Linked DNA regions of Homo sapiens. The protein of the gene in region 1 purifies or fractionates together with the protein of each later gene. This does not show direct contact. Each region holds a gene or a part of one and is shown on either strand. Other genes may lie near its edges.

Region 1 (3,623 bases):
TACATGTTCTACACTTCTATCCTGGAACTTAAAAAAAATAATAATCAGCCGGGCACAGTAGCTCACACCTGTAATCCCAGCATTTTGGGAGGCCAAGGCGGATGGATCATGAGGTTAGGAGATCGAGACCATCCTGGCTAACATGGTGAAACCCCTCTCTACTAAAAATACAAAAAATTAGCCAGGTGTGGTAGTGGGTGCCTGTAGTCCCAGTTACTCGGGAGCCTGAGGCAGGAGAATGGCGTTAACCCAGGAGGCAGAGCTTGCAGTGAGCCGAGATCATGCCACTGCACTCCAGCTTGGGCGACAGAGCTAGACTCTGTCTCAAAAAAAAAAAAAAACCTAATCAACTTTATAGTTAATAACCGCTTCTCTGTAGTATCATAGAAGACACTTACTGACCCACCTGTTGCCATACAAACAGCAGTCACATGCGTACAGCCATACAAAGCATAGAAACACTGCACACAACTAACATTCATGGACAACACAGAGACCTGAAGAGGCATGTTATGAGGCTGCCATACTTGGAAGTTGGAATTCTAAGTGGAAAGAAGATTGGAAAGATAAGTAGAATTTGAGATGCAGCTTTTAATTTAATATGATGTACTCTCAAGGCAAGTCCCACTTTTATCTCTATCCAGTTAGATCAGTGCTTGTGTTGAATGAAAGAATTAGCTTCTGACTCTGTTAGTTACCAGCTAGAACCTTAAACAAAATTTGACGTCATGACACAGAAAAGTATTTAGGGTCAGAACTTACAATAAAAGGTGGAGGGTAGAGAAGGGAACATTCATCTGGAACTTTCTATATGCTTTTATATGTTCTCCTATATACGATAGTAGTGGGCCAGGCACTGTTAAAGTAAAAATTCTTGTCTTAGTCATAAGAGGCAGCTCCAAACAATGGTCTTCGTTTTTGTTTTTGGCATGGAAAAATACATAGATATACAAATGTTCACTTAAGACAAAAATTAGCTCATATATTTGAGTACATCGGAGGAAGACAGATAAAGAATTTAAGTCCAATTAAGAGAATCCTTGTATCTTCTATACATTTCTGTCTACACATTTCTAATTGTAAGGCAACTCTCTTGGCTGTTGTGTTGGTAGTAGCAATTATGTCCATCCCCATGGTCATCCAATCCCTGATGGAATTTTCCTGGTGAAATTGGATTGGTAGAATCAGCTCTTTGGATATTATTTCCAGCAGTATTTCTAGTTGTTCCATACCAGAAGTAAATGTTAATTAATTATGAGTAAGAGCTGTCTGAGAAGGTGGTGGCATAGTCTCGGAAGTAGCAGTCTCAGATGGTGGCATAGTAGTCTCGGGAGTAGTGGCCTCAGATGGTGGCATAGTAGTCTCAGGAGTATTGGTCTCAGGTGTCATGGTTTCTCCAAATTTAGTTGTGTCAAATGTTATCAGATCATTCAACATAGATACTGGGGAACCAGTAAAAGAGTCCACATCACTATAATCCAATGTTATATCCTCTAGGTGAATCACAGGAAATGCTGGTCGTCGAGTATATTCATGTGATATTATAGAAATGCAGCATGATAGCTTGTTCCTACAAAGAAGTATGTACCTTTCAGTATCTAAACATCGTCTTCTGCAATGTCCTACATTATTCTTCCAACATTTTTGGGGTTCAAAGCTACCTGTAGAGAATAAAATATAGGTCAAATTTTTAACTCTGGCATCAACATAACAACTTTTCATTCATTCAAAAATTTACACTGACTGACATCTAGACTAATATGATGTCAAATACAAAAAGCCATTGTAAGAGACAAACAGGAGAACAAAAAGTGTATATTAAAATTGTGCTATGTGCCATCAAAGAAGTTGTATGGAGAAAAGGAGAAATGTAGAAAAAGAGAGGGACGGAGAGAGAGAGAGCATACTGAGACTGATACGAAACCTAGAAAGAAAGGATGAAAATGAAAAGCCCAGGACCAGATGGATTCACAGCTGAATTCTACCAGATATACAAAGAAGAGCTGGTATCATTCCTACTGAAACTATTCACCCAAAATTGAGAAGGCAGGACTCCGCTTTAACTTATTCTATGAGGCCAGCATCATCCTGAGACCAAAACCTAGCAGAGACACAAGAAAAAAAAAATTTCAGGCCAGTATCCTTGATGAACATCAGTGCAAAAATCCTGAACAAAATAGTAGCAAACTGAATCCAGCAGCACATCAAAAAGCTTATCCACTACGATCAAGTAGCCTTTATCCTTGGAATGCAAGGTTGGTTCGACATATGCAAATCAATAAATGTGATTGCTTATGGATAGCATTTAAAGTACAGAAATTGGTAAACCATGGTGGGTTGGAATAATATGAGAAAAAAAGAGGACTAGAATTAAATTCTAGTGAGTTTCAATATTAAGAGATAAGAGATCAGATAAGAGGAAACGACTTAAAAGGACCAATAAGATAAGTCAGATCAAAACAGGAGAATAAGACTCTAGAGTCTTAAAGCAGACCCCCAGCAGAGCAGAGCTCCAGCAAAGATTTGAATATAATAGTTTAGTTGAGAGACAATTCCTCCTTAAAAAAAATCAGTGGAGAAATGTAGAAATCAGGAAAGCAAGAAATCCAAGAAAAGGTGAGTTATAACCTGTTATTATCATGAGATCATCTATCAACTGCTGGCCAGCAGGATGGCTGTGTTCTGTTTGCTCAGAGGACAATCCCACAGGGAAGCCCAGCAGCCAGGCTACAAATAAGCCTCAGACTCATGGATGAGCCTGGGGGACATGTTACATTCCGTTATGTGAAATAGACACAAAAAGATAAATACCACATGTTTTCATTCATAAGCAGGAGCTAAAAAAGTTGAGTTCATAGAAGTAGACTGTAGAATAATGATTACTAGAGGCTGGGAAGGGAAAGGAGGATAGAGAGAGGTTGGTTAACAGATAGAAAATTACACCTAGATAGGAGGAAAAAGTTCCAGCATCCTATAGCAGGGGTCCCCAACCCCTGGGCAGCCAATGGGTACTGGTCCATGGCCTGTTAGGAACCAGGCTGCACAGCAAAAGGTGAACAGCAGGTGTGCAAGCATCACCACCTGAGCTCCATCTCTTGTCAGATCAGCCAAGGCATTAGAGTCTCATAGGAGCATGAACCCTATTGTGAACTGTGCATGTGAGGGATCTAGGATGTGTGTTCCTTGTGAGACTCTAATGCCTGATGACCTGAGGTGGAACAGTTTCATCCTGAAACCATCCCCACCACCACCTTCACCTCGTCGAAAAAACTGTCTTCCACAAAACTGGTCCCTGGTGCCAAAAGGGGTCCACTGTTCTATAGCACTGTAGGGTGACGGTAGTTAACAATCATTTACTGTATATTTTCAAATAGCTAGAAGAGACGATTCTGAATGTTCCCAATATAAAAAAATGACAAATGTTTGAGGTGATAGATATGCTAATTACCCTGATTTGATCATTACACATTGTATACATGTATCAAAATATCACTCTGCATCTTCTAAATATGAACAATTATTACACATCAACTAAAAGTAGAAGAAAAAATAGCATTTAGTTTTTATTAAAAAAAAACCAAAAAACTTAAAAAAATGTTTAATTGGGCATCAGGTCCTGAAGG
Region 2 (2,580 bases), on another chromosome or scaffold:
GAGTTCATGCTAAATACTTTGTTAAATCTATCCACTTCTCCAGTGAATAAACTGTATACCATTTTAAGAGATAAGGTTTAGATTATTTTTGAAAATGCCTTTTGGCCTGGGGTATGCCCGCTATTACCTTTGCTTAAAAACTTGGGTTCAGGAAATTTCTACCTTAGAGAAGTAAGATTCTCTAAAAGAATGTTTCACTTCCTCATGGATACTTTATGGGGGCATTAGCATGAAGTGAAGAAATTCTTTGAAGTTTCCAGAAAGATGGGTCCCAGGAAGCTTAGAATTTATGCATAAGTAAATGACTTTATGTCCTTCTATTTGAATGTAACTTCAAATCATAATCATCAGTTGAACACATGTTGACTTTGCTTCACAGATTTGCCAGCATTCCTTTATTTTCCTGTGTGTCTGGCTCTCTATTATTACTTCAATACAGGTTCCCATAGACAAAGCCCCCAGCCCCTCCCGCAAATACAACAGGCGTTGTGGTCTCATAAAATTTTCAGTCAGAAAAATACCCCAAAATAAGCTTTATTGCAAGAAAAGTGTCATATTTGATACACAGACCTACAAAAACAAACAAAACCAAAAACCATAAGTTTTTCCTCACAAACTCTTGATTACAAATTTACACTGTTCCTTTTTTCTTTTTAGTTATTAAAAAAACAATAAAACCTCAAAATACTGGGTATAACTGGTTACTAATCTTTGGTCAGCACAGGTTTGAGAGGAACAACCAGGAGCCTGCATGTGCTTTGGCCATTTCACATATGAGGTTTGGTCACTGGTCCAGGAAACAGGTTCTTGGGTTGAGAAGAATAATGGATACGTGCTCTTAATAGCACATCCTGGTACAATATCTTTTTAAATGACTAAAGCAAACTAAACATCAATTCATTGTACAAACATCTTTCATACACAATAGGCTATGATAAAATGAGGCATATGGTGTATAACTACAGTATTAATGAAAATTCTAAAAAAAAAATGGGTTTAAAACAACAACAACAACATATATTCCTTGGCTGCATTGCATGATTTGTTTGCACATATGGCAATCCTGAAATAACTTGAACATAATAAATGCACCATTATTTAAGACAGCACGAAACACCACAGAATGCCAGGTGTTCCCTTTCAAGGGAACGGCGGTTCTTCAGCTGCCTACAGTACCATGAGGACGCAGCGCACCCTGGGTAAGAATGAGGTGTTGTGGGTAGCACATATGGTTCCTTGAGGTTATGAGAAGGAAATACAGTACGGTTTGGCCTGCAATGCTAATGGTCTCACAAGCAGTCAAGGTATTTTGCTACAGTGGTTGTGCTTCAACTTCTGTTGCCTGGTGTGTCTGGTGATATGAAATGTTGTCACAAATGAGCTGCTTTGGCTTCGATCTACGTTATAAAGGATCTAATGACATTCATGTTTTTTAAATTATTGATTACACTGCCCATTCAGCTCTGTGTGGCTTTCTTTAAAATCATCAGGTGTGTATCAGCTGGATGACTGGCAGAAAACCAAAGGAAACATCTCTTGTATCTATTGGATTTTTAAAAAGCACCTCTAAAAAAAATAGCTCAAATTTATAAATCTAAAGAAAAACAAGTGAGTTTCCCTTTTTGTTTACATAGTTTGTTCATTTCTCCATATATTACTGCATTAAAAATAAATAAACATCTATATTTTTTTAATTAGCAACTATAGCAAAATACCCAAAGTGTTACAGACTGCTAACAGGAAAAAAAAAAAAAGCTCACATTATTTTTGTGCATTTAGTGCCATATGCTGATATCTTGAACATTTAGGTTTCTTTTAATATATTTTAAAATGAAGTTATATAAAAAATACAGTAACCACGGTTGCCTTTGTGCTCAAATCTTTGGCCATACCAGAGTCTAAATTATCCCTCCCTGTGAGGGTCAACATTCAAAGTCTAAGACAGGGAGGAAAGAAACAAGAGTTATTATTATTTTTCCTCTTTAAAATTAGTCCTTGACTTTTCAAATGCTTCTGCAGACTGGCTGTGCTAGGATTTGAGCCTGGGCCCAAGTCTGTGAAGGGTTAATAGAGCTGAATCTGCAGCCTCATTCTGAGAGCCTCCCCAAGCTCCCCTAGGAGGTAGTCATCCTCATTGCTCTCTTCCAGTTTCTTAAGCTCCTTCTTCTTGTAGAGAGGGATGCTAGTGATTTCCAGTGTGTATGTGCCGGGCATGAGCTTCTTCTTGGCCGTGTGCAAGTAGCTGAGCCCATTCCTTTGGTGGATGCGGAAGACGCTGTCATCGTTCCCTTGAGAGATGACATAACGGATGTGGTTGTTGAGGGGCTGGATGGCGGGCCTTAGTTCCAGGATGTGCTCCTTAGAGCCGAGGTGGGAGAGGTTGAACTTCATGTTGACGGGGCTGTCCATGTCGACACTCTCTAGGCTGATCTGTTCAACCTGGAGGAAGAACAGGAAATGATTTGGGACAAGCTTCTACAGCACAAGCAGAGGACTAGAAAGAGATCAGCTGCAGGGGCTTTGGTCACGAGGACAGGCTGTGGCTTCCCACTCCCGCTTTCTGCACTCTCCTTACCAGCA
Region 3 (3,661 bases), on another chromosome or scaffold:
TAAAGTTCAAAAGAACCTTCTTTGGGTGCAGGGACATAGTTTCCACCATGCTTGAATTCTATCCTCTTCACTTCTTCACCTTTGTTGTTGAACATTCTACAATACAAAGTATGACATGATGGAATGTTCTCCAAGCTTAGGTAGTCCTGGAGGCTTCTTTATTCTTTGTACTACAGAACAAAAAAGGAATACATGCTCTCCTTCAAGATAAAGGTGCTGGTTGTAATAATAATAATAATAATACAATAATAATATTTATTGAGCATATGTATGTGCCAATTGCTTTGTAAGCACGTTAGAGCACTATTATCTTATTCATCCACACAGTAACCATTTAACAGATGAGGAAATTAGTCCTGGGGAACTGGGTAACTTGCCTCAAGTCCCTCTACTAAGTGACAAGGTGGGGATTAGAACCTGACTTTTTCAATAGCTGTTTTACTGAAGAAAGAGAAGGGCTGGGCAGACTGTGAGTGGCTTGGCAGTGCGGCATTCCGTGTGCGGCCCATGTGCTGATTTCCTAGCACCCCAAACATAGCTCTGATCATTGTTGGGAATTCACCTGATGAGTCCTGGAACTTCAGTTCCCCAAGGAACAGGCCCGGACACCGGCAACACAAAGCGACCGTTATTATTCTGAACTTTGTCCTTTAGAAACATGGATACCTGGAAAAAAATACATTTATTGTCATTTTTCTTGGTATATTTTCATAGACATCAATATTCTGAGGGTGGAAAGTGCGTAATGGTTTGGGAACATGACCTATGAGTTTATAACAATAAGAAGGGAGAGGCTGGGCGCAGTGGATCATGCCTGTAATCCCAGCACTTTGAGAGGCTGAGGCAGGCGGATCATGAGGTCAGGAGATAGAGACTATCCTGGCTAACACGGTGAAACCCTGTCTCTACTAAAAATACAAAAAATTAGCCGGGCGTGGTGGTGGGCACCTGCAGTCTCAGCTACTCAGGAGGCTGAGGCAGGAGAATTGCTTGAACCTGGAAGGCAGAGGTTGCAGTGAGCCAAGATCGTGCCATTGCACTCCAGCCTGGGCGACAGAGTAAGACTTCATCTCAAAAAAATAAAAAAATAAAAAAAAGAAGGGAGAAAAAATTACACTTGCAGAGTTAACTGTATTTTAACAAACAGAACTATTTTTTTTTTTGAGATAGGGACTCACTTTGTCACCCAGGCTGGAGTGCAGTGGCACGATCTTGCCTCACTGCCACCTCAGCCCCGCCAGCTCACGCGATTCTCCCGTCATAGCCCCCAAGTAGCTGGGACCACAGGTGTGAGCCACTGTGCCCAGCTAATTTTTATATTTTTTTGTAGAGATGGGTTTTCGCCATGTTGGCCAGGCTCAAAATCCTAAGCCCAAGTGATCTGCCTGCCTCGGCCTCCCAAAGTGCTGGGATTACAGGCGTGAGCCACCGTGCTCGGCTACAAACAGAACTACTTTTGAGCAGCGCAGCAAACCTTCCAGGTGAGTCCTATTACCCCCATTTTAAAGACGAGAAAGCTAAAGTAGAGAGTGAAGTGACTTGCCCAAAGAGAGCTAAGAGGCAGGGCCAGGATTCAAAACCAAAGGTGACTCCAAATTCCACCCGTATGCCTTGGTTCCCTGCCTACTTTCCATGCAGCTGCAGGCCTTGAGCTGTAAGAACCTCATATGGCCACTTTCTACATGAGGCAGCTCAGAGGTTAAGATGCCTCCTCAAGGTCAGCCAGCTGGTAAGGGGCAGAGCTGAGGATTCAAACTCCTGTGATTCTGACTTTGGAGCCCGAACCTTATCCACATGCTGGACTAGAAAGAAGGATGGGGCTGGGGCAGGGGGATCCAGCTGACATTTAAGTTTGAGGATCTTTTAGGTGACTGAAAACACATTACACTTATTCCTTCTCCTGGGTTCGTGTACTCTGTATAGAGGTTTCGGTCACTCACAGATTAAATCTCATAAAGATAGTAGCAGTTAATCAGTTTTACTGGGTCTTGGCTTCCTTATCTGTAAAATAAGAGATGAGCTTGAAGATCTTTTCAACTCTAATATTCTATAAGGTTATATTAGTAATATAATCAAGAATAAGTATCTTAGGCTGGGTGTGGTGGCTTACGCCTGTAATCCTAGCACTTTAGGAGGCTGAGGCGGGTGGATCACCTGAGGTCAGGAGTTCGAGACCAGCCTGGCCAACATGGTGAAACCCTGTGTTTAATAAAAATAAAAAAATTACCAGGGTGTGGTGGCTCATGCCTGTAATCCCAGCTACTCACAAGGACAAGGCACGAGAATCGCTTGAACCCCAGAGGTGGAGGTTGCAGTGAGCCGAGATCATGCCACTGCACTCCAGCCTGGGCAACAGAGCAAGACTCTGTCTCAAAAAAAAAAAAAAAAATGGAAAGAATAAGCATTTGTTGTGTGCAAGGCAGTGAAAATGCAAAGCGATAAGAATGTGTGAGCTGGCAGCTTGGCATACTGATGTTAGACTCTGAAGGCTTAAATACTGGACGGGCCACTTCTGGGTTTTTGGGAAATTACACAACCTTTCTGTGCATCAGTTTTCCCTTTGGTAACCTGGGGGTAATAATAGTAATAATAATAGATAACTCGGTGGGTTACTGTGACAACTAAATCAGACAGTGTATAAAAAGTAAAGCCGGCTGGGTACAGTGGCTCACGCCAGTAATCCCAGCACTTTGGGAGGCTGAGGCGGGAGGATCATGAGGTCAGGAGTTCAAGACCAGCCTGGCCAACATGGTGAAACCCTGTCTCTACTAAAAATACAAAAAATTAGCTGGGTGTGGTGGCATGTGCCTGTAATCTGGCTACTCGGGAGGCTGAGGCAGGAGAATCGCTTGAACCCAGGAGGTGGAGGTTGCATTGAGCTGAGACCTTGTCACTGTATTCCAGCCTGGGCAACAGAGCAAGACTCTATCTGGAAAAAAAAAAAAAAAAGCAAAGGCTGACACATAGACTATGTGCTCAATAAATGGTAGCCAATACTCTTATTATTACAAGTCTATTTGGACACAGGACACAAGCATAAAATGGAGAAAATAACACTTTAAAGCAGGACATGCTACATAGCAGGTGCATAGAAGCTTGCTGAGGAGAATGACTGCTGGCATGCCGGGAGTCTGGGGGGAGGCAGGCGTGACTGTGGGTCTGGAGCTGAGCCTGGAGGAAGAAGGTAGGTGTAGAGACACTTCAGAGATGGAGATGAGCAGGTGTGAGTCACGTTTTCAGGGGAACATGTAAACTGGTTTGGTCAGAGGGTTTGCTGGATGACGTTTAAGACATTTTTAACCTCAAGATTCTGTGACCAAGGGATGTGAGTACAAGAAAGGAGAAAGAAAATTTAGAGGGAGAATTGGGAATATTTATATGTGCTAGAAACTCTGTTAGTTTAATCTTATGAGGTTGACTATGGCATGGTAGATCTGAAATGTACAAATTTAGGTCATGTGTGTGTCTGTGTTTGGCCTGAGACTCTGCCAGTGGCTGGAGAGGACTGTTAGGTCTGTTTGCTTGCTCAGCCCCTCTGCTGGCCTTTTCTTCTCCCTCCACCCTTTCCTTTCCGAGGTGATCTCGTCTCCTCCCATACTCCAGGGCTCACCTCTGAGCTCATGGCTCCCAGATCTCAAGGTCCCACTCCAGCTCCTTCCCT

Evidence for each region.
Region 2: the proteins of DEFB125 (region 1) and FBN2 purify together in Homo sapiens (affinity purification with mass spectrometry; one large-scale study listed by BioGRID and IntAct). This does not show direct contact.
Region 3: the proteins of DEFB125 (region 1) and OSCP1 purify together in Homo sapiens (affinity purification with mass spectrometry; one large-scale study listed by BioGRID and IntAct). This does not show direct contact.

What each region holds. Positions count from the first base shown.
Region 1 is NC_000020.11:94,043-97,665, reverse strand, and holds the end of DEFB125 (beta-defensin 125 preproprotein), read right to left. Parts: intron 1,662-3,623; coding exon 1,249-1,661; 3' UTR 572-1,248; downstream 1-571. UniProt on the Homo sapiens protein: Has antibacterial activity.
Region 2 is NC_000005.10:128,257,391-128,259,970, forward strand, and holds the end of FBN2 (fibrillin-2 precursor), read right to left. Parts: intron 2,440-2,580; coding exon 2,065-2,439; 3' UTR 519-2,064; downstream 1-518.
Region 3 is NC_000001.11:36,422,801-36,426,461, forward strand, and holds part of OSCP1 (protein OSCP1), read right to left. Parts: intron 667-3,661; coding exon 563-666; intron 171-562; coding exon of another isoform or gene 137-170; exon of another isoform or gene 97-136; coding exon 1-96. UniProt on the Homo sapiens protein: May be involved in drug clearance in the placenta.